7 linked regions of the Homo sapiens genome follow. The protein of the gene in region 4 purifies or fractionates together with the protein of the main gene of each other region. This does not show direct contact. Each region holds a gene or a part of one and is shown on either strand. Other genes may lie near its edges.

Region 1 (3,500 bases), on a different chromosome or scaffold from region 4:
ATCCAGTTTCACCTTTCTACATATGGCTAGCCAGTTTTCCCAGCACCATTTATTAAATAGGGAATCCTTTCCCCATTGCTTGTTTTTCTCAGGTTTGTCAAAGATCAGATAGTTGTAGATATGCGGTGTTATTTCTGAGGGCTCTGTTCTGTTCCATTGATCTATATCTCTGTTTTGGTACCAGTACCATGCTGTTTTGGTTACTGTAGCCTTATAGTATAGTTTGAAGTCAGGTAGTGTGATGCCTCCAGCTTTGTTCTTTTGGCTTAGGATTGACGTGGCGATGCGGGCTCCTTTTTTGGTTCCATATGAACTTTAAAGTAGTTTTTTCCAATTCTGTGAAGAAAGTCATTGGTAGCTTGATGGGGATGGCATTGAATCTGTAAATTACCTTGGGCAGTATGGCCATTTTCACGATATTGATTCTTCCTACCCATGAGCATGGAATGTTCTTCCATTTGTTTGTGTCCTCTTTTATTTCCTTGAGCAGTGGTTTGTAGTTCTCCTTGAAGAGGTCCTTCACATCCCTTGTAAGTTGGATTCCTAGGTATTTTATTCTCTTTGAAGCAATTGTGAATGGGAGTTCACTCATGATTTGTCTCTCTGTTTGTCTGTTGTTGGTGTATAAGAATGCTTGTGATTTTTATACATTGATTTTGTATCCTGAGACTTTGCTGAAGTTGCTTATCAGCTTAAGGAGATTTTGGGCTGAGACAATGGGGTTTTCTAGATATACAATCATGTCGTCTGCAAACAGGGACAATTTGACTTCCTCTTTTCCTAATTGAATACCCTTTATTTCCTTCTCCTGCCTAATTGCCCTGGCCAGAACTTCCAACACTATGTTGAATAGGAGTGGTGAGAGAGGGCATCCCTGTCTTGTGCCAGTTTTCAAAGGGAATGCTTCCAGTTTTTGCCCATTCAGTATGATACTGGCTGTGGGTTTGTCATAGATAGCTCTTATTATTTTGAAATACGTCCCATCAATACCTAATTTATTGAGAGTTTTTAGCATGAAGGGTTGTTGAATTTTGTCAAAGGCTTTTTCTGCATCTATTGAGATAATCATGTGGTTTTTGTCTTTGGCTCTATTTATATGCTGGATTACATTTATTGATTTGCGTATATTGAACCAGCCTTGCATCCCAGGGATGAAGCCCACTTGATCATGGTGGATAAGCTTTTTGATGTGCTGCTGGATTCGTTTTGCCAGTATTTTATTGAGGATTTTTGCATCAATGTTCATCAAGGATATTGGTCTAAAATTCTCTTTTTTTGTTGTGTCTCTGCCTGGCTTTGGTATCAGAATGATGCTGGCCTCATAAAATGAGTTAGGGAGGATTCTCTCTTTTTCTATTGATTGGAATAGTTTCAGAAGGAATGGTACCAGTTCCTCCTTGTACCTCTGGTAGAATTCGGCTGTGAATCCATCTGGTCCTGGACTCTTTTTGATTGGTAAGCTATTGATTATTGCCACAATTTCAGCTCCTGTTATTGGTCTATTCAGAGATTCAACTTCTACCTGGTTTAGTCTTGGGAGAGTGTATGTGTCCAAGAATTTATCCATTTCTTCTAGATTTTCTAGTTTATTTGCGTAGAGGTGTTTGTAGTATTCTCTGATGGTAGTTTGTATTTCTGTGGGATCAGTGGTGATATCCCCTTTATCATTTTTTATTGCATCTATTTGATTCTTCTCTCTTTTTTTCTTTATTAGTCTTGCTAGCAGTCTATCAATTTTGTTGACCCTTTCAAAAAACCAGTTCCTGGATTCATTAATTTTTTGAAGGGTTTTTTGTGTCTCTATTTCCTTCAGTTCTGCTCTGATCTTAGTTATTTCTTGCCTTCTGCTAGCTTTTGAATGTGTTTGCTCTTGCTTTTCTAGTTCTTTTAATTGTGATGTTAGGGTGTCAATTTGGGATCTTTCCTGCTTTCTCTTGTGGGCATTTAGTGCTATAAATTTCCCTCTACACACTGCTTTGAATGCGTCCCAGAGATTCTGGTATGTTGTGTCTTTGTTCTCGTTGGTTTCAAAGAACATCTTTATTTCTGCCTTCATTTCGTTATGTACCCAGTAGTCATTCAGGAGCAGGTTGTTCAGTTTCCATGTAGTTGAGCGGTTTTAAGTGAGATTCTTAATCCTGAGTTCTAGTTTGATTGCACTGTGGTCTGAGAGATAGTTTGTTATAATTTCCGTTCTTTTACATTTGCTGAGGAGAGCTTTACTTCCCAGTATGTGGTCAATTTTGGAATAGGTGTGGTGTGGTGCTGAAAAAAATGTATATTCTGTTGATTTGGGGTGGAGAGTTCTGTAGATGTCTATTAGGTCCGCCTGGTGCAGAGCTGAGTTCAATTCCTGGGTATCCTTGTTGACTTTCTGTCTCGTTGATCTGTCTAATGTTGACAGTGGGGTGTTAAAGTCTCCCATTATTAATGTGTGGGAGTCTAAGTCTCTTTGTAGGTCACTCAGGATTTGCTTTATGAATCTTGGTGCTCCTGTATTGGGTGCATATATATTTAGGATAGTTAGCTCTTCTTGTTGAATTGATCCCTTTACCATTATGTAATGGCCTTCTTTGTCTCTTTTGATCTTTGTTGGTTTAAAGTCTGTTTTATCAGAGACTAGGATTGCAACCCCTGCCTTTTTTTGTTTTCCATTGGCTGGGTAGATCTTCCTCCACCCTTTTATTTTGAGCCTATGTGTGTCTCTGCACGTGAGATGGGTTTCCTGAATACAGCACACTGATGGGTCTTGACTCTTTATCCAATTTGCCAGTCTGTGTCTTTTAATTGGAGCATTTAGTCCATTTACATTTAAAGTTAATATTGCTATGTGTGAATTTGATCCTGTCATGATGATGTTAGCTGGTTATTTTGCTCGTTAGTTGATGCAGTTTCTTCCTAGTCTCGATGGTCTTTACATTTTGGCATGATTTTGCAGCAGCTGGTACCGGTTGTTCCTTTCCATGTTTAGTGCTTCCTTCAGGAGCTCTTGTAAGGCAGGCCTGGTGGTGACAAAATCTCTCAGCATTTGCTTGTCTGTAAAGGATTTTATTTCTCCTTCACTTATGAAGCTTAGTTTGGCTGGATATGAAATTCTGGGTTGAAAATTCTTTCCTTTAAGAATGTTGAATATTGGCCCCCACTCTCTTCTGGCTTGTAGGGTTTCTGCTGAGAGATCTGCTGTTAGTCTGATGGGCTTCCCTTTGAGGGTAACCCGACCTTTCTCTCTGGCTGCCCTTAACATTTTTTCCTTCATTTCAACTTTGGTGAATCTGACAATTATGTGTCTTGGAGTTGCTCTTCTCGAGGAGTATCTTTGTGGCATTCTCTGTATTTTCTGAATCTGAACGTTGGCCTGCCTTGCTAGATTGGGGAAGTTCTCCTGGATAATATCCTACAGAGTGTTTTCCAACTTGGTTCCATTCTCCCCATCACTTTTAGGTACACCAATCAGACGTAGATTTGGTCTTTTCACATAGTCCCATATTTCTTGGAGGCTT
Region 2 (3,500 bases), on a different chromosome or scaffold from region 4:
CCGTAATTTTATTTGTAGTAGAGGTTACTGGTATAACTTCAAGTCCCATTCGTATCCTCTTTTGTTTTTCACAGTAAGCTTTCCAGGTATCTTCATTAAACCCATAATTAAAATAATCAGAAAGATCAGCACCTAAAGATAAAACACAACTTTAGTGTACAAATATTTCAGCTCTATTTTTATGCAGCATCAAAAATATACTAAACTATAAAAATATAAATTTAGAGTTCTATCAGTTATCACTCTATCATTTATGGTGGCAAAAAGACTATATCATTTTTGATCAAATTATTCCCTTTACAAACGCCATTATAATAAACAATAAGTCTACATTTTAAGTAATACAAGGCCACCAGTAAGATTTAATAATCCCAAGTCATTATTACTCATCATTTGCTTAAGACAATTAAAATTATAATGAAAAAATAAAATTCTAAATTGATGTTCAAAAAAATTTTCTGATGACTTCACACTGAAAATATTGAAATTAATATAATCCACAATAATCTTACCAGGTTTACGCCATGGTTTATCTTCAAAAGAATCCAAATCTACCTCTAAGAGTGGAACTCCATTAATGCTTCCAGGTGCATCAAGGTCTACTCCTTTGACTTTTGTCCCTGTTTTATAAAATTACAAAATGAAGGAGCTATACTTGCAAGAAGCCAGGCGATACCATAGACAAACAGAAAATATAAACACCTTTTTACTATTCCTGGCACATATACACACACAAACAGAAAACAAACATCTTTTTACTATTCCTGGCAAAAAACCTGGCAAGGGTTCCAAACAAAGCAGAGCCTAAAATACGTGCTACTGGACTCTTGCCAGAAAAACTTTACCAGTCTCTGTGATGTACGGTCAAAAATTACTCTTTAAAAAGAGCTATTATCACCTTGGCCGGGCGCAGTGGCTCACACATGGAATCCCAACACTCTGGGAGGCCAAGGCAGGTAGATCACTTAAGCTCGAAAGTTCAAGAGCAGCCTGAACAACATGGTGAGACCTGGTCTCTACATAAAAATACAAAAATTGGCCAAGCATGGTGGTGCACGCCCGCAGTCCCAGCTACTTGAGAAGGTGAAGTGGGAGGATGGTTTGAGCCCAGGAGACGGAGGTTGCAGTGAACTAAGATTGCGCCACTGTACTCCAGCCTGAGTGACAGAGCCAGACTCTGTCCCCGACTAAAAAAAAAAGCTATTAAGACCTATTTAAGATATGTGCCTTATTTCCCTATTGATGCAACAGAAAATACAAATTTTACCTGTAGTTCCATAAACTCTTCCCCCTGTCTTGATGTTAAGATTTACAGGTGCTGTACCATAACTCCTAAAAACAAACAAACAAAAAAAAACAGAAATTATCCTGAAAAGCTTAAACAAAACAGTAATATATTCCATTTGTACAAACAAATTATACAATCACATAGTAAATGGATAGTGTGACACACATTTTATTTCTATCTTTATTTTTTAAATTTTGTATAGATGAGATCTCATACCATGTTGTCCAGGCTGGTCTCGAACTCCAGAGCTCAAGCAATCCTCCCACCTTGGCTTCCCAAAATGCTGAGATTACAAGAGTGAGCCACCGTGCCCAGCTAACACATATTTTAAAAAACATTTTAAACTGATTTTTAAAGTCACTTGCTCAATAAAAGGCAAAAACAGTAAAAAAAAAAAGCCTGACTTGTTTCCATTTCAAAAACCTTTTTGCCAATAACTCAACATTCTACTGTAACAAACTTCACAAGAAATAAGGCTAAGAAGGGAAAAATAGTTTACACCCCTTGTCTTCATTTCCTTGCCTCCCAGTTATTAAATATACAGCACTCTTAAGCATAAGTAAAATTCCTCCAACTTGTTGTCAAATCTAGTGGCCTTTCAGTTCTTCTTGCATTTGATATTGTTAATAAATCCTTTTTCAACTATTCATGGAGTACTCAGTCCATAACAGAAATTTATTGACAAGAAATTCAAAAATAAGTCTAGCATGAAAGCAGAACAGTGTTTGCCGGTGGTGGGTGGTTAATGACCAAGAGGCAAAATGAGAGAAACTTCTAGGATGCCAATTATGTTTCATATCTTGATCTGGCTGTAGTTACATGAATGTATATATTTGAAAAAATATTAAGCTGCACCTTTTTAGATGTAATATAATACACAGTGATAAAGAAAAAAATATCTGAAGTTGGACCAACCCACATTCAAATGTTTTGTCAATTGCTAGTTGTGTAATCTTGGCCAAAACACCTAAGACTTGTATACAATTATTTGAATAATTCATTGCATTTTTACTTGTATAAATGAGCCTTGTATACATTTTCTGTAATACGGGGTTACAGACAGTTCTTTACTTCTTTATATAATGGATTCTTATATATGAGTAGTATTATCAAATATACTAATTAAAAGAGACTTTTCTGTTACTAGGGAAGTTAGAAGAAAACGGGAATGGGCAAAGAAGGACCAACTCCCACTGAACAAAAACATATCAGTAAGACGGCCGGGCACGGCGGCTCACGCCTGTAATCCCAGCACTTTGGGAGGCCGAGGCGGGTGGATCACGAGGTCAGGAGATCAAGACCATCCTGGCTAACACCATGAAACCCCGTCTCCACTAAAAAATAGAAAAAACTAGCCAGGCATGGGGGTGGGCGCCTGTAATCCCAGCTACTCAGGAGGCTGAGGCATGAGAATGGCGTGAACCCAGGAGGCGGAGCTTGCAGTGAGATCGCGCCACTGCACTCCAGCCTGGGCAAAAGAGCGAGACTCTATCTCAAAAAAAAAAAAAGATATCAGTAAGACCTCAAGTCACAGATGTTTATAATGATATATTTCTCACATTATATTCATGTTATATATTTGGTTCTTTTCTCTCAGAACTTCAGCCATCTGGACTTCAGATTCACTGCTTTGGGTCTAATAATAATTACTTCCATCTTTTGTCTCTGATGTACTACATTTAAGACTTAGGTTTAGTTACATTTGCACTGTCACTTTTCTTTTCTACTTAAAAAAGAAAAATGTAAATTCAATAAAATGTTTAATTGTATCAAATAACTGTAGCTCCACAGCTAGAAATGCAAAAATTACAAAGTGGACCAAATATTACTACTGTCAAGCAGTACTATCGTCACCAACTTGAAATAATCATTTCATAGGCTGATTAATTCATGTAATGCTTACTGAGCACCAAACCATGTCAAGTATGGTTCTAGGCTGAGGAAAAAGTATGAGGAGCTGGACAATTACGGTTCCTGCCTTCACGATGTTTACATTTTAACAATCCAAATTCAGAAAAAGTGACTTAGCGGTATCTACATATGATGTACATGATTTTTCTACAAATGTACAAAAATCAAGGATTTTCTCTAAACTGTTCTCTTACAGGACCGTATAGAATAAAACAGTATTTTTATAAAAGGCTTAGCCACAAGTGTTCAATAAATGAGCTTCTTCGCTTTCCACCTAGCTACTTTCTATTCCCCATTCTGC
Region 3 (3,500 bases), on a different chromosome or scaffold from region 4:
GAAATCTAATAGGGGTACTACCACCTCTGTTCTAGAGCTCCTAGTGAGGATAAATACAATCCTAGCCAACTCAGTTTTCGTAATGAAGGAAAGGAATTGGGAAGAACTACACACAACAAGAGTCCTTTTTAAAGTCTGCCTTGGGGGAAGATGAATCAGTTTGACCAAATTTTTCCTAGAAGTGGGCCAGTGTAAAAGGTATTCTATAATAATAACTAAATTCTGAATCTCCGTAGAATTAAAGGTCAAGATTATCTACTTGGGTCCAAAATTAAACCTAAGAGGCTGTAGGTGGGAGGAGGGAGGAAATTGAATATAAGTAAAATTAAACCTACTGAGAGAACTTTGAAGATCCTTCCTCATGTGTGACATTGCACCTTTTTCCTTCATTTCCTTTAACACGGGCCAGTTTAGAGCCTTGGCTACTGTGAAAAAGCTATGAGTCATAGAGACCACATAAGGAATGAATGATTCTAAAGATAAGATAATTGCAGTAAAGAGTTATTCGTGCTATTTTGGGGTGAAAAAATCGACTTGATTTGTCAAAACAATTATTGTTATACCTGTAAATTCTGTATAAAAGGAATTCTTTATGGTCACATAAATCCAGAACCCAAATGAAATCTATTTCACGGCTTAGGAATGGTTTTTTGGAGCTAACCAGGAGGAGGCAGCTAGTTTCCCTTTTGGAGATATAAACTGTGCTCGGCATTATCCTTATGCCACATTTCCCAATTTAAAAGTAAGGAAGATGAAAAAAATTAAGTACAACTTGGATAAAACTCTAAAAGAGAAATACATAAAGGAATATTTGCAGTAGTTAAAAAGAAAAGACCCACTCCAGATCACACACTGGTACTCTGTGTGGATTAAAATTAATAGTTGACAAAAGCTGGTATTTGTAGGTAGCACCTTAAGGGGTAGGGTTAAGGCTGTGAACCTTTCAGAATGTTTTTGGTAGTAAACCCTTAGGAGCTTGCAGTTTAGGATCACAGCGTTGATCTCCTTGGGGAACCAATGGTATGTCATCATGTATGTGATATTTATGTCTCTTACAGGGACAGGACCAGATGGTAGAATCACCAAGAAGGATATCGACTCTTTTGTGCCTAGTAAAGTTGCTCCTGTGAGTTATGTGTAGCTCTTACTTTTTTTGCAGTTTGTCTCTACAGCCTGTTAGACCATTTCATACATTATTTATGAACGAAATAGCTCAACCAAGATTGTTTTCTTCTAATTTCAGTGGTTTAATAATACAGTCATCCCTCGGTACCCATGAGAGGTTGGTTCCAGGAGCCCCCTTGTATACCAAAATTCGCAAATGCTTAAGTCTCTTATATAAAATAGTGTAGTATTTGTATATAACTTACCCACATCCTCTCAAATACTTTAAATCATCTCTAGATTACTTATAATATTAAATACAAGGTAAATACTATGTAAATAGTTGTTATATTTTATTGCTTAGGAAATAATAATAAGGACAAAAAGTCTGTACTTGTGCAGTTCAGATGCAACCATCTGTTTTTTTCTGGAATATTTTTGATTTGCCTTTGGTTGAATCCAGTGATGCAGAACTTATGGATATGGAGGGCCAAGTGTATTTAGATATTTGTGTGCTATCATTTATATACAAGATCAAAGATGATATACTACATTGACATGTATTCCACATTATGTTTTGAGCTAGTTAATCGGTTTTTGCTTTGAAATAAAAGATTTGTTCTTTTTTTCTTTTTCAAAATATTTTAAAGTACAGTTGAATGAGTTGTTTTTGGTGTTTGGTTTTTTTTGTTTGTTTGTTTTTGAGACAGTCTCACTCTGTCGCCCAGGCTGGAGTGCAGTGGCGCGATCTTGGCTCATTGCAACCTCTGCCTCCTGGATTCAGGCGATTCTCATGCCCCAGCCTCCCAGGTGGCTGGGACTACAGGTGCATGCCATCACACCTGGCTAATTTTCGTATGTTTAGTAGAGACAGGGTTTCGCCATGTTGGCCAGCCTGGTCACGAACTCCTGGCCTCAAGTGAGTCATTGTGAGGCTCAAGTGAGCCTCCCAACCCCCTTTTCTTAACATTGTTTAGGATAATGGATTAGCTTGTTTATACTTATTTATTATTCCTTGCAACTTAAGAATGCTTCCATTGCTTTTCTTGAACATAATTTTGCAAAAACAAAATTATTTTGACACAAACTGGTCATTGAACATACTCTGATACAAAGAAAAATGACACTTAAAACATGACTTCAGAATTCTAAGTAAAAAAATTAAAACTCTTAAAACAAGCAGAAGTCTCTTTTGCTCACTGGGGACAGAAATAGGTATTCTATAAAGCTTAGTTTTTAGACTGGACATGGTGGCTCATGCTTGTAACCCCAGCACTTTGGGAAGCCAAGGTGGGTGGATCACTTGAGCCCAGGCATTTGAGACCAGCCAGGGCAACGTGGCTAATTTCCGTCTCTACTAGAAATCCAAAAAAATTAGCTGGGCATGTTGGCGTGCACCTGTAGTCCCAGCTACTCTAGGGGCTGAGATGGGAGGATTGCTTGAGCCCAGGAGGTTGAGGCTGCAGTGAACCATGATTGAGCCACTGCATTCTAGCCTGGGTGACAGAGCAAGACTCTGTCTCAAAAGACAAAAAAAAAAAACTGCATAGTCACTGGCAGTCTTTCCCAGGTACTTACGCTAAGATTGAATCACAGTTACTAAGAGCTTTTTCTTTCCTCCCATAGGCTCCGGCAGCTGTTGTGCCTCCCACAGGTCCTGGAATGGCACCAGTTCCTACAGGTGTCTTCACAGATATCCCAATCAGCAACATTCGTCGGGTAAGAGAATTACCATCATCTGGAATCAGCTGTTAGGGGCATCTTTAGGTTGTTTAGTTGCTTCCATAGTTTTTAACACATTAACAGAGGCTTTTTAAGTTGGGAATATTGGATGATTACTTTAAGGGAAGTTTTGGCCAACTGAATACTTGAATCACTTTGTTCCTATTAGAAGGGCCAGGCGCAGTAGCTCATGCCTGTAATCCCAGCACTTTGGGAGGCCAAAGCGGGCAGATCACAAGGTCCAGACTTCGAGACCAGCCTGGCCAACATAGTGAAACACCCCGTCTCTACTAAAGATACAAAAATTAGCCGGGCATGGTGGCACATGCCTGTAGTCCCAAGTACTCGGGACGCTGAGGCAGGAGAATTGCTTGAACTTGGGAAATGGAGGTTGTGGTGAGCCGAGATCGCACCACCGCACTCCAGCCTGGGCAACATAGCGAGACTCCATCTCAAAAAAAAAAAAAAATCTAGGAGGTGTTATATTATGGCGGAGTCCTCCATCTTTCAATTATAATAATGCTTGAGGTAAGTATTAGCAGAGAGTAAGGTGAAGAGACAAACAGAGCCCTAAATTAGTTAAGGTCTTAACTCAAGATAATTGATTTTTTAAATCTCTTTGGTTTCAGGTTATTGCACAGCGATTAATGCAATCAAAGCAAACCATACCTCAT
Region 4 (4,091 bases):
TTTTGTTTTTGATAAAAGAACTCTTATAGAAAAGGAATCGCTGCAAATTTCTTTTAGCTAGCTAGCTCTCTGGGCGATTAAAATGATTGATACATTTCTAGAACACATGCACCGAGATACACCTGCACTCGTACTTTGTCCGTCAAAACAATCTTTGTTTTCTCTCAAGCTAGGACTTGCTGTGCCTAAGACACACCTCGTGCAGCGGTGGCGGTGAAGGTGCTGGGGTGACAGCCAGGAGGGCACTTTCCCTTTCTCGGGCTCCCTAACCAAAACTTTGCAGCCACCAGCCCAAACTCACGTTCCTGCTCGTTCTTCTTTCCCCTGCCTCAACTCTCCCCGCACCCTTCGCGCTCTGTGCGCCCACCCCTGCTTCCGTCGGTCAGCTTCAGCCGACCTACTACTCAACCTACCGGCCCGCGCCCTCCGCCTCCACCTGCACCACTCGCCCACCCCGAGAACCCACCTCTGCCGCCCCCGGCCCGCGCGCCCCGTCGCGGCCCGGGGCTCCGGGGCATGCGCGTTGCGGCGCCACCGCCCTCCCCCACGCCTTCCCGCGGCAGAGTTATGCCAAGTATGTGAGGAGCCGGCGAGGGCCAGCGCCGGTCATGGGGAGCCGCCGCCGCCTCCGCCTCCGCCTCCGCGAGCGCGGTTTTCTCCCCAGCGGGGCTCCGACCTCTCCCCCTGGCGGGGGTGAGCCTCGCGGCTAAGGCAGAGGGGATGGCGGACCCTCTGAGGAGGACGCTGTCCAGGCTCCGGGGAAGGCGGGGTCCCCGCGGCACCGGGGGGCTAGGGCTCCGGGCGGCAGCCGCAGCTGCGGTGGCGGCCTCTTCGGCAGCCGCGGGAGACGCCTGGGGTGCCGCAGACACCCTCCCACGTGAGCACGCCGGGGGACACGGGCGGAGCCTACAGCAGCCCTCGCCGTCACCTGAGGCGTGGGGTCCCGGGGCGCGGGTCCCCGGAGGGCACCCGGAGCAGTTGGGGGCGCTCGGGCCTCGGCCGCGCGGCGGGCAGGAGGCCGCCCCCCAGAGCCATGGGCTCGCTCACGCCCCTCCGCACTCCCCGGAGGGCTCCGAGGACAGCGGAGAGGAGGAGGAAGACGACAAGGACGAAGACGACTACGACGCCGACTACTACGAAAACCTGCCCGGCGGCTCGCAGTCTGCGCCCGAGCCTGAGGGGGCGGAGGCGGAACGGCGTCCCCCGCCTCCCCCAGCGGCGGGCTCCTCCCTGGGGGCGGAGGGCGGCCGCCTGGAGACAGGCAGGCTGCGGACCCAGTTGCGAGAGGCCTATTATCTGCTGATCCAGGCCATGCACGACCTGCCCCCTGACTCGGGCGCGCGGCGGGGCGGCAGGGGCTTGGCGGATCACAGCTTCCCCGCGGGAGCCCGGGCTCCGGGCCAGCCGCCTTCCCGCGGCGCCGCGTACCGCCGAGCCTGCCCCCGGGACGGGGAGCGGGGAGGCGGCGGACGCCCTCGGCAGCAGGTGTCCCCGCCCCGGTCGCCTCAGAGGGAGCCGCGGGGAGGCCAGCTGCGGACTCCTCGGATGCGGCCGTCCTGCAGCAGAAGCCTCGAGAGCCTCCGGGTGGGTGCCAAGCCGCCTCCCTTCCAGCGGTGGCCGAGCGACAGCTGGATCAGGTGCGGCGCGCACCGGGACTGGGACGAGCCCCCGCCACGTGGAGGCAGGATGGACGGCTGGAGTGGGGACCGCGCCCGGGCGGCTGCACCCACCGGCCTCCAGCCTCCAGGCTGCAAGGACCACGGCTGCTCCTCGGGAAGCCCTTTCAGGGATCCAGCGGGGTCCTCTGTGATACGCAGTGGCAAAGGAGACCGCCAGGAAGGCCCCTCCTTCCTCAGGCCGCCGGCAGTGACAGTCAAGAAGCTGCAGAAGTGGATGTACAAAGGGCGTCTGCTGTCCCTGGGAATGAAGGGTCGTGCCCGTGGGACGGCTCCCAAAGTCACAGGAACGCAGGCAGCCTCCCCAAATGTGGGCGCTTTGAAAGTGCGTGAAAACCGTGTCCTGTCGGTGCCTCCAGACCAAAGAATTACGCTGACAGGTAGGATACTTTGCGATGAAAATGCTAGCACCGCGAGCCTTACTGTTTACCGACTGGGCTTCTGTCTTAAGAGCCAAGAAAAAGTTATGTTTTTGCGACAGGTACGTTACCGGGCGAAAGTAAGTGTCATGTAAGTGGCAGCTTAAAGTAATTTCGGGGTTACTTAATGTAATGCATTTACTCGTTTTGCTTTTTTTTTTCTTTTTAATCAGACAATGGCATGAAGAATTGAGGTTGTGATTTCTTCTCGAAAAACCAGTGTGTCTATTCCCTAAGTATTACCTAAAGGAGTAAAGGTTAAGTATAACACACTTTTAGTAGGTTTACAGATGGGCGGCACTGTCTTGATTTTTATTCTTTGTAGCTCTAGGCAAATCCGTAGACTTTTGTGGAGTTTGTAAATTTGAATTTGATTCAAGGTAGATTTTATAGGCTTCATAAACTGTCATTTTACTCATTACAACTTTTTTTTTTTGCCTCTCCCAGGCACGCACACACATGCATACATACACACAACCAAAAACCCAAACAAATCAAACAAAAAAAACCCTACCATAAGTAGAATTTTTTAGTCAGGTAGTATTTCACATACACCATCTCTCCACCTGCCTCCCCCCGACAAAGAAACCTCAACAAAGTAATCTTTTTATTGTGAAAAATCAAGGACACTAACATTTTAATCAAAAGAAAAATGTTCCTCAGGTAGTTTTGTTTTTAAAGCAGTCATTTGCAAACTTAAATCCTATTTATAAGAGAAGTAAATTAGTTTTTTAAAAAGTATATTGATCCTTATAATAGGATTAAGCTCCCTATTTTGTATGTGCATGATTTTTAACTATCACTGAAGGTTTAGGTTATCAATTCTAGAAACCAGTCAATTATGTTGTAAATATCAAAATATCTTTCCTGAAAGGAGTATAATATCTTCAAAGTGAGCCAAAACAACATGGTCTTTTGAATACTCTTACATATAAAAATTTTTAGTGATCATAAAGACTTATAAGTCAGGAATAATTTGGAAAACATTAAATCCTGAAATGTAAAAGGTATTCACAGTACTTGGCGGTTTCTCTGGTAGTAATTATAAATCCTACAGGACTGGATTTATACACATTAACTTTGTTTAACCAATAAACACACAACAGTGGGGAGAAACAAAGTTCACAAAACTTCTTATCAAACAATGAAGACAAATCAAATGATTCATTCAAAGTGTGTGCCAACTTGCAAAGTTTTTTCCTGTCTATACGGCTCTAATACACACCTGTCAAATTTTATTCTCAAGGTTAAATATTCCATTTCACTTGAACAAAAGGATAATAGAATGTAAATTCTTTGTTGAGAGGTGTACTTTATACTAAGTTCATATTAAACATGCATTTCCAGGAGTAATTTGTAATCATTTATTATATTTTATTGCCACAATATTTTTACCTCCCCCCCTTTGGCTTAGTTTTAACTCTTGGTACCATAGTTGAATTTCAGCCATAACAAAAAATAGTCAAATATTTTTCACCCTTTTGTCACAGAGCTAAAACACTTACCATGTGATGGCTTTTAATGCCCTCAGTAGTAAACATTCAAGGATTTTTAAAGTAATAAATATAGTTCCTTTAAGAATGAATTTGATTTTTGCATTAAGCAACTAATTAAATGAAACTGCTAACTTAGAAATTAAAATGAAACAATTATTATGTGATAATATTTTAGATATTTTATGAGAAATCTAAGCCAAAGCTACCATAATCTCTGGTTTAAACAACTCTCAGATGTTACTTCCTTTTAAACCACTAATTCATTTTTCAGGAGAGATGAAAATAATTTGTGCAGTGTTTACATATCTAGTATAGATTTGGAGAGCTTTTTAAAAAAATTATTTTTCATGAAGTTTAGTTGGTCTTACTAAGTCCATTCTGGATACATTAGGTGGTTCTCATACAATTTTTATAGCCCCCAAAATGGAGATATGCTGTCATTTAACAACAGCTACAAGAAAAAGAACAGAGGGATTAAGCAGTTTGCCCAAGATCACTCA
Region 5 (3,500 bases), on a different chromosome or scaffold from region 4:
AGTAGTCGTGGAAGATGTTTGAACAATGCCATGAGAGGATTATTCTTTATAGAATATTATTCTGACAGCAGTGTACAGATTTGAAGATGAGAGGCTTATTGAGAAAAGGTTTATTAGAAAGTCATTGAAGTTGCCCACAATGATAAGAATATGAACTAGAGAAGTGACTCTGGGCTTATAAAGGAGAGGAGATTTAGAGACTTGACCTCTAATTTATGGATGGAGGAAAATGACAGAGAAGGTCTAACATAATTGTGAAGTTTGAAACATAGGAGATTGAAGAGATATACTTAGTGCCATTAACAGAATTAGGGAACTGAAGAAGAGATGGTTTGGAAGTAAAGGTGTTTTATTTTAGACATACTGAGTTTCAAGTTTTCAGTTATAGTTCTAGATTGTCCACTCTAGAATAGTGTGGTAGAATTTTACCTAGAATAGACAGGTAAAATTAGGACTGGAAATTTAGGAGACTGGACTGGAGAATAACACATTTGAGAATAAGCTGACTACAATTAATATTTAGCCTGAGGAAGTAAAGACCCTCCTCCTAACCCCCCAGGAGAAGAAAGTAGAAAGAGAATATGAGAGATCCAAGAGCAGGCTCTGGAAGGGCTAGCACAAGGAAAGTTGTACACACACACACACACAAACACACACAGCCTGTATAAGGAACGTTACACACACACACACACACACACACACACACGCACACACAGAGTCAGTCAAGAAAAGGAATGGTCAGAGTAAAAAGAAAAAGAAGGTGAAGATAGTGTCCAGTAAAAAAAGCCAAAGAAGAGAGTTTAATGGAGGAGGAGGTATAGTTAAGTATTTCAGGAAGGGTTTATTTATATATCAAGTAAAATTAAAAGGTGCTTTTAGACATATAAAGCAGTACTTAAATCCAAGTTCATGTTGGGCAGAGTGGAGGTATATCAGCCATTACAGTGTAACAAATGCCCATTTCAAAATTGATAGATAGTACTGCCTCGTTTTTCTCAACTCTAAAATAACAGTAATAGTAGTATTTCATTGGGTAATTATAAGGTTGAAACAGGATAACCCATGTGAAGCACTTAGCTGAGGGTCACACACTAGTAAATATTTGTTAAATGTTAGCTTCATTTATAACAATAAATGTTAGCTTCATTTATAACAATAAATGTTATCTGACTGACTGACTCTGGCTGTTTTATAATGGGGGAAAAAACGTTTGTTTCCAGGTTTTTTGTTTGTTTTTTTGTTTCTGTTTTTTGAGGAGGTGGGAGACCTAATGTGGGTGTTGGCAAACTATGGCTGGTGGGCCAAACCTAGCCCATTACCTGTTTTTGTATAGCAAACTGGTTGGAGAAAAAAAATAAAAAAAAGTCATTGTCCCTAAAGTTTTATTGGTTACAGCCACACTCAATCATTTGTGTATTAATATTATCTGTGTTCCACAAAGCCTAGCATTTACAGTGTAGCCCTGTAAACTCACCAATCAATAAGCAGCTGTCTCAGTACCTATCATATTGCACAGAATATTAGAGTTCGCAAACTTTCTTGGTCATTGGAGCCCCTAGTGTTTGGTAGGATTTTTTCACAGTGCCACTGGCAAAAGGAATTGCCTGTTTGTCTCATTAAGTAGTTTGATGGAAATGTGATCAAAATGGCAGTTTGTGCAGTGTCTATGAGATGTCACTGTGCTTCTCTCAAAACTTTAAAATATTCTACAGAGCCCCCGTGATTTTGTTGTGACACTCTGGAGCACTTTGGTGCACATTTTAGGAACTGAGGAATGCTTAGACACTATTGATAGCAATTCATTACTGGAAGTACCAGAGGTATATCTTTATAACAGTTTTGTCCATGAAGTGGCCCTCAAGCATCATCATGGGGGCTTTAACAAGCCCTGTTAACCTGCTAATTATAGCAAATGTTGGCAATAGATATGAAAGAAATGATTTTTAAAAAATTATTAATACCCTATGCTTGTGGCAACTAGTTAGTTGCTGTATTCACCAATCTATATAGTTAACTGTGGTTGAGTATAGAATTTCTAGAAGTGAAGTTGATGAAGTGATCTAAAGATAACAGAGGTTGCATTTTTAGGGTTGTTGGAAAGCCCTTAAAATAGCATAAATATTTGTACATAAAATTAGTTTTTATTATAGTTGAAATAGTTAATGTTTGGTGGGGAAATCAGTAAATTTAAGGCTGTGATGTTAAAAAAAAAAGTATTATAATTGGAAAAATATCAGTTACTAGTTTTTGTTGATTATATTGGACACAAAATTTTTTAACCAGAGTATATACATGGATTAAAAACAAAATTCATGTGCAGTAGTTTGTTCAGTCACATGCTATATTATCTACTCTGTATGCCTTTTAATTGCTTTAGAAGTTTATTAGATTTTTTTCAGATTATCTCATGCTAAAATTAGAACTTGTTCCCAGTGACTTTTAAAGATTGGATCATTACCCAATTATTGGGGTTAATTATAAAATTATTTTCAAATGAAGAAAATATTTTTTGTTCATAACTTCCCTTTTCTGTTTTCATGCTTTCAATCTTTGTCTCTTTACCTGTCTTATTTTAATTGGCTTTAGTATGATTTCATTGCTCCTATCATGCCTGTGGTGGAATCAGTAGATCCTGCATCATGGAGGCAGGGCTTGCGCAAAACTGGCATTGTTCTTGTGCCCAGTAAGGGTGAAAAATCTATGGTGAGGCATTTCTATGTGCAAGAATTTATATTAGGTTACAACATAACAAGTTTAATATAAATTGGTTCCAAAGATGCATGGTTTTAAGTCCTTATGGTGTGCTCATTTCTGTTTTCTGTATTTGCATCATAATTTTTCTGTGTGATATAAAGTGTGTAGTGTGTTTTCTTAAGTCTAACCCCTAGGAAGGTAGTCTATTTCTTTAAAATTTTTAGATCTTTACATTTTTTACTAAGACATTAACCTATGTAGTAAAAGTGTTTTATCCTGAAACTGTAAACCATAATTTTAAATATATTATCTGTAAACTTATTGTTTCCAATTTAAGGACTGATCAGCTTTACAAATTCTTTTTTCTTTTCCTAAAAAATAAAATAAACACAGTTTCCAACCACAGCTACAAAAATTTCTCCCAAAGAAGAAGAGAGAAAAGATGAGTCTCCTGCAACTTGGAGGTTAGGACTTAGAAAGACGGGCAGCTATGGTGCACTTGCTGAAATCACAGCATCTAAAGAGGGTCAGAAAGAAAAAGATACTGCAGGTGTTACACGTTCAGCTTCAAGTCCCAGACTTTCCTCCTCTTTGGATAATAAAGAAAAGGTAATCTATTTCACAGTCTGGTTTCTATGAAAACTGTTATGATTTCTTTTCCAGGAACATCAAATCTGGTAGATTTTCTGCTAGTTATCTTTAGATCTAGGTATCAAGTTAATTAACCTTAATGAATTACATAAGACAAATGTAATTTATACAGAATTATAAATACTGGAAAGATCAGATGTATTTGCCTAAAACAT
Region 6 (3,500 bases), on a different chromosome or scaffold from region 4:
ATTGTCTCAGAATTATTTCTGTCAAGCCAGACATTGTGCCCTTAACATGTGCAGTTCATCCAGGCAGCCATTAGTCATTCGTCAACAGAATAGAGCCCACTGTGTGCCAGACACTGGCCTGGGTGCTGGGCTTTTACAGTGAGATGAAGTATTGGTTCTTTCCTCTTGGAAACTTAGTGCACAATGGAGAAAAACAAATATTTACACTACACTATGATACATGCTATCATAGAGGTGTGGGCAGAGAGTTGTGCTATGCACATAAAAAAGCAAGGCTTCCTCTAAAGAAAAGGCAATTGGGTGAAGAAGAGATGGGGAAGGGAGGAAGAATCAGGGAAGGCTTCACTGTGGAGGTGACATCTATCAGAGAAAGAAGGTAGCAAAGGGTATTCCAGAAAGACAAAACAGTATGTGCAAGGGCCTGATATGTGGTATGTTCAGAGACTGGGCAGAAGCTTGGTGGCTGAAGTGTGCAAGGGATGGGGGCGAGAGGTGATAGGAAATGAAGCTAGATGTGAGACACCATTAGCAGATGCTATAAATGCCATGCCGGGGAGTTTGGATTTTATCCTGTAGGCAGCAGGAGAGCTGTTGGACAGTTTTAATGGGAGAGTTGCATGATCATGTCTGATTTTTAAGGAAGACTGTAACAGCAGACATGGATTGGAGGGAGAAGAGGGGCAATCATCATTTCATCTAAAAGCCCCTCCAGGAAAGTCTAGAATCTTTGCACAGAAGCTTTTTGAGATAATTAAGCCCCACTGGTGAATTGGAGCAAACAGGTTCAGCTTTGCAGTGAGCCAGCAGTAGTAGCTTTTGGCCAGCAGCTGCTTTTTCCTTATAACAGCCCTGTTGCCATGGTAACGGGAGAAGTGACCCACCCAGAGACGTTGATTTAAATGTTCATGGCCATGTCGTCCATTTAGCATGCACAGATCTTGGCACACTTCCTTCCCCTAGAAGTGTCTCTCTGGGGCTGCTGATGCCTGTCTGGTCTGTGGCTCTCCCAGGAATCAGCCCTGGACTGACATGGTAGTGGCTTCCCCATGGGAACTGAAGACAGATGCCTCAGTGGCTTGTGTTGAATATCTCTGCTTCCTAGTCACTGTCCCTTTCCCAAAGCACACTCACTCATCACTTCTCTCTCTCACCACATCCTGCCCATCTTTGAAGACTCAGTTGAAGCCCTGCACCTTCGCTGGGCCCGCTAGCCCTGATCATTCTGGCCTCCTTTGGTTCTTTTTCAGAGCACTTTTTGGAGCCATATACAATTACCTATTCCTCCTCTGAACTCTAAGCTTTTTCTCACTGGTTGTTTGGTACTTAATTTTTAAATGTATTCTGCCATTTATGTGTTGTTTGACATCACTGACAGTTTCCTGGGTCAGCATCCTGTCTCCCCAGTCAGACTGTAAACTAGCAGGCATCATCTTTCTGCAAATGCCTTGCCCCATGTTCTTCCCATTGCTGCCAGAGTAAATCTTTAAAAGGTCAGGTCTGACCACTCAAGCCCTTGCTGAAACTCTTCACTGGGTCACTTTTGCCTTTGAGTGCTTACAAGTCTCCATGGCCTGGCTGCTGCCAACCCCTTCTACCACATCTCCCCCGGCACTTGACGCTCCAGCTGCACACTCTTCTGTCTGCCTGGAACGAACTGCCCTTGACTTCTCACCTGTATGATTCCAGTGTGTCTTGTGGACATCCTGGAAAGACTCCCTGTCCCTCATAAGAATGGGCTATGTGTCCCTCTTTCTATTGCCATGGCATTCTATACTTGCCTATTATGGCCCCATTAGATGTCTTAGGGGCAGGGACATTGTCTGGATTAACATTGTTTTTCCAGTGCCTAGCACAGTGCTTAGCACAGAGAACAACCAATAAATATTTGTTCCAAAAAACGAGTGACTGGTAGGTAGACAATTAATGATTGTTACAGGAAATAAATATAAGGTGACTCCTTAATTTGGGATGGGGGGGATTCCTTAGGGTTTTTTTTTGTTTTTTTTTTTTAAACCATTGATTTTGCCCTAAAAGAACAGAAGGGAGCATCTCTCTTCTATGAGTTTCTCCTCTACAAATGGCTCAGGACAGGACACCAGGGACAATGGATGGAGGCAACATCAATCCCCTTCTGATTTCCTGCTTCCTAAGATTGTAGAGCCACATGTGAGAGGAACTCGCAAGCACATGTTGTTCATAAGCTGCATTTTATTTATTTTTTATTTTTTTGTCCCAAACTTTTATTATTATTATTATTATTATTATTATTATACTTTAAGTTTTAGGGTACATGTGCACATTGTGCAGGTTAGTTACATACGTATACATGTGCCATGCTGGTGCGCTGCACCCACTAACTCGTCATCTAGCATTAGGTATATCTCCCAATGCTATCCCTCCCACCTCCCTCCACCCCACAACAGTCCCCAGAGTATGATGTTCCCCTTCCTGTGTCCATGTGATCTCATTGTTCAATTCCCACCTATGAGTGAGAATATGTGGTGTTTGGTTTTTTGTTCTTGTGATAGCTTACTGAGAATGATGATTTCCAATTTCATCCATGTCCCTACAAAGGACATGAACTCATCATTTTTTATGGCTGCATAGTATTCCATGGTGTATATGTGCCACATTTTCTTAATCCAGTCTATCATTGTTGGACATTTAGGTTGGTTCCAAGTCTTTGCTATTGTGAATAATGCCGCAATAAACATACGTGTGCATGTGTCTTTATAGCAGCATGATTTGTAGTCCTTTGGGTATATACCCAGTAATGGGATGGCTGGGTCAAATGGTATTTCTAGTTCTAGATCCCTGAGGAATTGCCACACTGACTTCCACAATGGTTGAACTAGTTTACAGTCCCACCAACAGTGTAAAAGTGTTCCTATTTCTCCACATCCTCTCCAGCACCTGTTGTTTCCTGACTTTTTAATGATTGCCATTCTAACTGGTGTGAGATGGTAACTCATTGTGGTTTTGATTTGCATTTCTCTGATGGCCAGTAATGGTGAGCATTTTTTCATGTGTTTTTTGGCTGCATAAATGTCTTCTTTTGAGAAGTGTCTGTTCATGTCCTTCGCCCACTTTTTGATGGGGTTGTTTTTTTCTTGTAAATTTGTTTGAGTTCATTGTAGATTCTGGATATTAGCCCTTTGTCAGATGAGTAGGTTGCAAAAATTTTCTCCCATTTTGTAGGTTGCCTGTTCACTCTGATGGTAGTTTCTTTTGCTGTGCAGAATTTAGATGGGGAAACAGGCCCAAGGAAAGGAAGAGGCTTTTCCAAGACTGTCTATCTGGTTTAGCAGGAGGGACAATGACATTATGGAAGCTTCAGAGAAGGGAAAGAGCTTCTGTCTGTGTAGCTCATTGCCCCAGGCACTGCTCTGCCTGCCTGTGAAGCACCAGAGCTGGGTCTGAGCCCTGTGAGTACCTTTAAGGGCAGTGCCCTATTTCATTCATTTGTTTATTTAACCAGTACTAAGCACCTACTCCACCAC
Region 7 (3,500 bases), on a different chromosome or scaffold from region 4:
ACCCAACAATAACAGATGCAAGTCTGTCGCTCCCAAGCAGAAGAATGCAAAATGACACAGCAGAAAATGAAACTACCGAGAAGGAAGAAAAAAGTGAAAGTCGCCAAGAAAGATACGAGATAGAGGAAACAGAAACAGTCACCAAGTCCTACCAGAAGAATGATTGGAGGGATGCTGAAGAAAACAAGAAAGAAGACAAGGAAAAGGAGGAGGAGGAAGAGGAGAAGCCAAAGCGAGGGAGCATTGGAGAAAATCAGGTAGAGGTGATGGTGGAAGAGAAAACAACTGAAAGCCAGGAGGAAACAGTGGTAATGTCATTAAAAAATGGGCAGATCAGTTCAGAAGAGCCTAAACAAGAGGAGGAGAGGGAACAAGGTTCAGATGAGATTTCCCATCATGAAAAGATGGAAGAGGAAGACAAGGAAAGAGCTGAGGCAGAGAGGGCAAGGTTGGAAGCAGAAGAAAGAGAAAGAATTAAAGCCGAGCAAGACAAAAAGATAGCAGATGAACGAGCAAGAATTGAAGCAGAAGAAAAAGCAGCTGCCCAAGAAAGAGAAAGGAGAGAGGCAGAAGAGAGGGAAAGGATGAGGGAGGAAGAGAAAAGGGCAGCAGAGGAGAGGCAGAGGATAAAGGAGGAAGAGAAAAGGGCAGCAGAGGAGAGGCAGAGGATAAAGGAGGAAGAGAAAAGGGCAGCAGAGGAGAGGCAGAGGATAAAAGAGGAAGAGAAAAGGGCAGCAGAGGAGAGGCAAAGGGCCAGGGCAGAGGAGGAAGAGAAGGCTAAGGTAGAAGAGCAGAAACGTAACAAGCAGCTAGAAGAGAAAAAACATGCCATGCAAGAGACAAAGATAAAAGGGGAAAAGGTAGAACAGAAAATAGAAGGGAAATGGGTAAATGAAAAGAAAGCACAAGAAGATAAACTTCAGACAGCTGTCCTAAAGAAACAGGTACAGTAAACATTTTGCACCAAATGTGTGATGCCTGTGACTTGTGAGAAATGTAATGCACATCTGATTTGGGACTGAGGCCACATGCATATAGCTCACATGCTTGATCATTTGGCAAGCTGTTCATTTTTTCAGGCCATAGCGATACACAAGCATGCAGCAATTGATTGATGGCTGAATATTCAATCAACCAAATTTACTGGGACAGCCAGTAAATTTGGCTGTCCAGAAGACAGAGAGAAATTAATTGCTCTGTGCTTGATTGTTATGAATACCCAAAAAAAGAATTAATCCAAAGATGATAAATGTGGTGGTGGTGTGTTGGCTTCTGATTCTGTGCTTGCATCTAAACTCGTTCTTTTAATTATCTTTCCTCTATCCATAGGTCTGCATGAGGCAAGAGGCCCATAACTCCTTACCTCACTCATGGGTTTGACGTTGAATTAAAAAAATGATAAAAGCTGGGGTGGGAAAGAGACATGAAGAATAATGGTCAGACATTTCATCTTAAGAAGGCAAAAACAGGCTGGGTACAGTGGCTCACACCTGTAATCCCAGCACTTTGGGAGGCTGAGGTGGGTGGATCACAAGGTCAGGAGATCGAGACCATCCTGGCCAACATGGTGAAACCCCATCTCTACTAAAAATACAAAATTAGCTGGGTGTACCGGCACATGTCTGTAATCCCAGCTACTCAGGAGGCTGAGGCAGGAGAATCACTTGAACCTGGGAGGCAGAGGTTGCAATGAGCTGAGATTGTGCCACTGCACTCCACTGGGCAACAGGGAGAGACTCCATCTCAACAACAAAAACAACAACAACAACAAAAAGGCAAAAACAAACCCCTGGAAATTAACTGGTAATAAAGAGGGGGAAAGGAACTGGTTGGAAACTTTCCTTAAAAAAAAAAGTCAAAACCCTGATTTGCCAACATGTAGACCTCAGCTTAATGTAGACTTGCAGAAAGCCATTAATTTAGGGTAGTATTGATTTATATTTGACTGGTAATTAAGAGCATACATGCTGCTTCTTTATTATCTGGGTGACACAAATTCATGTGGCCTGAGGAAGGGTGGAAATAGTAGGGGGGAAATGTTTGTAAGCTTTGAGAAAGATTTTTTTTCTGTCTGCAAGACTGCATTGAAAGCACTGTACCTAATCACCACCACACCACCACCACCACTCCTAAAAAAAGAAAAAAAGAGATGCTTTCACATTCACCTTTCCAGAGCAAATTCTCTGTCACTAAGCCTGCATTGCACTGAAGGTATCTTTAACTCCTGCTTCTGTACAAGAGGCTCATGAACACAGCTAAAATTGAGACCATGAGCAAAGTGCACCAAACCACACACGAGGTTTGTAAACACACGAGGAGTGCCACATCATGCTAGATTTCAGTGAGCGCAATGGCAGGCACACGAGAAGATGTTGGGGTGGGAAGAAAATATCCCACCTTGCTGTTTAGAACCACTGTGCTGTGAGCGCTGAGACGGCAGAAGAGAAGCCATCCCACGCAGCACTTGCAAGGCGATCCGAGCACCCTGTCACTCTTGTAAACTAGAAAGGGCTTCTTTTACTTGTGTGACCTTACCATTCTTGAAAATAAAAAGGGAGAAGAGAAGGGAACTAAAGTGCAAGCTAAAAGAGAAAAGCTCCAAGAAGACAAGCCTACCTTCAAAAAAGAAGAGGTAAATATGATTGAAAAGTAATGATCGTAAAGCAACAGAAAAAGCAGTCAGTGTTCCAAGATATCTCAGGTCTGATGATCTCAAAATTGTAACCTCATATCCAGTGTATTTCAAGCCATGACTCACAGTCCACTGAATAGTGAGATCAGCTTAGAGTGTCTCAAAATTAATTAAATGTATCAGTCAGCATTTTTTAAAAAATGAAATGGATAGAAGCCATCAGAGGGCATTGTAGGTAGTAAGTATTGCATTGTCAGGTAAATTGTCTTTTTTTCTGTGGGACGTCATCAAAAAGGCTTGAAAAACACTGCTGGAATCAATTTATCCTGTTTTCTATTCTTCTGAATGCTAATTTTTTTTCCTTGAGCCATTCTACTTTCATTTCAATCATGAAATATTTCCAACTGGCCTTGATTAATGCTTTAACTTTTCAAAGGAAAAACACCCACACACATCTCAGTAGAAAATATGGTGAACTGAAGATGATATTTGGTTTTCAAAAGAAAAGTTTGGCCAAATGTTCTGCATTGCATTTCTGAGGCACACACAGGAGCGGGTGCCAGGGTATTTGACTGTAGGTAAGTGAACAAGGAGCTATACAGATAGAATGGCACGGGGTTTGACAGTAATCAGAACACCACATCAGAACACTTGATTGCACTTCAACTCTCATGCTGTGTTTGCCCCAAATAATCTTAAAAATTGTGACTATATCGAATAAGTTCACAATACTTATTAGGATGTGGTGAAACTGAATTATTTGAAGTAGGAAGACCCGAAGTTCTTCGCCTATGAGACTGGTGAAGTGATTTGTAGCCAACATGCTCCAACCCATCTATTAAGAAAACTATGGCATCTATTAAGAAAA

The links.
Region 1: the proteins of SYDE2 (region 4) and DSG1 purify together in Homo sapiens (affinity purification with mass spectrometry, with the first as the bait; one large-scale study listed by BioGRID). This does not show direct contact.
Region 2: the proteins of SYDE2 (region 4) and FIP1L1 purify together in Homo sapiens (affinity purification with mass spectrometry; one large-scale study listed by BioGRID and IntAct). This does not show direct contact.
Region 3: the proteins of SYDE2 (region 4) and DLAT purify together in Homo sapiens (affinity purification with mass spectrometry, with the first as the bait; one large-scale study listed by BioGRID). This does not show direct contact.
Region 5: the proteins of SYDE2 (region 4) and PPP1R12A purify together in Homo sapiens (affinity purification with mass spectrometry; one large-scale study listed by BioGRID and IntAct). This does not show direct contact.
Region 6: the proteins of SYDE2 (region 4) and P4HA3 purify together in Homo sapiens (co-immunoprecipitation; one large-scale study listed by IntAct). This does not show direct contact.
Region 7: the proteins of SYDE2 (region 4) and CALD1 purify together in Homo sapiens (affinity purification with mass spectrometry, with the first as the bait; one large-scale study listed by BioGRID). This does not show direct contact.

Annotation. Positions count from the first base shown.
Region 1 is NC_000018.10:31,349,160-31,352,659, forward strand, and holds part of DSG1 (desmoglein-1 preproprotein), read left to right. Parts: intron 1-3,500. UniProt on the Homo sapiens protein: Component of intercellular desmosome junctions. Involved in the interaction of plaque proteins and intermediate filaments mediating cell-cell adhesion.
Region 2 is NC_000004.12:53,387,641-53,391,140, reverse strand, and holds part of FIP1L1 (pre-mRNA 3'-end-processing factor FIP1), read right to left. Parts: intron 1,333-3,500; coding exon 1,268-1,332; intron 621-1,267; coding exon 513-620; intron 133-512; coding exon 2-132; intron 1-1.
Region 3 is NC_000011.10:112,042,408-112,045,907, forward strand, and holds part of DLAT (dihydrolipoyllysine-residue acetyltransferase component of pyruvate dehydrogenase complex, mitochondrial isoform 2 precursor), read left to right. Parts: intron 1-1,058; coding exon 1,059-1,126; intron 1,127-2,730; coding exon 2,731-2,823; intron 2,824-3,455; coding exon 3,456-3,500.
Region 4 is NC_000001.11:85,198,217-85,202,307, reverse strand, and holds the start of SYDE2 (rho GTPase-activating protein SYDE2), read left to right. Parts: upstream 1-1,291; 5' UTR 1,292-1,311; coding exon 1,312-2,056; intron 2,057-2,065; exon of another isoform or gene 2,066-2,157; intron 2,158-2,268; exon of another isoform or gene 2,269-4,091.
Region 5 is NC_000012.12:79,809,598-79,813,097, reverse strand, and holds part of PPP1R12A (protein phosphatase 1 regulatory subunit 12A), read left to right. Parts: intron 1-3,087; coding exon 3,088-3,303; intron 3,304-3,500. UniProt on the Homo sapiens protein: Key regulator of protein phosphatase 1C (PPP1C). Mediates binding to myosin. As part of the PPP1C complex, involved in dephosphorylation of PLK1. Capable of inhibiting HIF1AN-dependent suppression of HIF1A activity.
Region 6 is NC_000011.10:74,280,641-74,284,140, reverse strand, and holds part of P4HA3 (prolyl 4-hydroxylase subunit alpha-3 isoform 1 precursor), read left to right. Parts: intron 1-3,500. UniProt on the Homo sapiens protein: Catalyzes the post-translational formation of 4-hydroxyproline in -Xaa-Pro-Gly- sequences in collagens and other proteins.
Region 7 is NC_000007.14:134,933,134-134,936,633, forward strand, and holds part of CALD1 (caldesmon), read left to right. Parts: coding exon 1-944; intron 945-2,554; coding exon 2,555-2,632; intron 2,633-3,500. UniProt on the Homo sapiens protein: Actin- and myosin-binding protein implicated in the regulation of actomyosin interactions in smooth muscle and nonmuscle cells (could act as a bridge between myosin and actin filaments).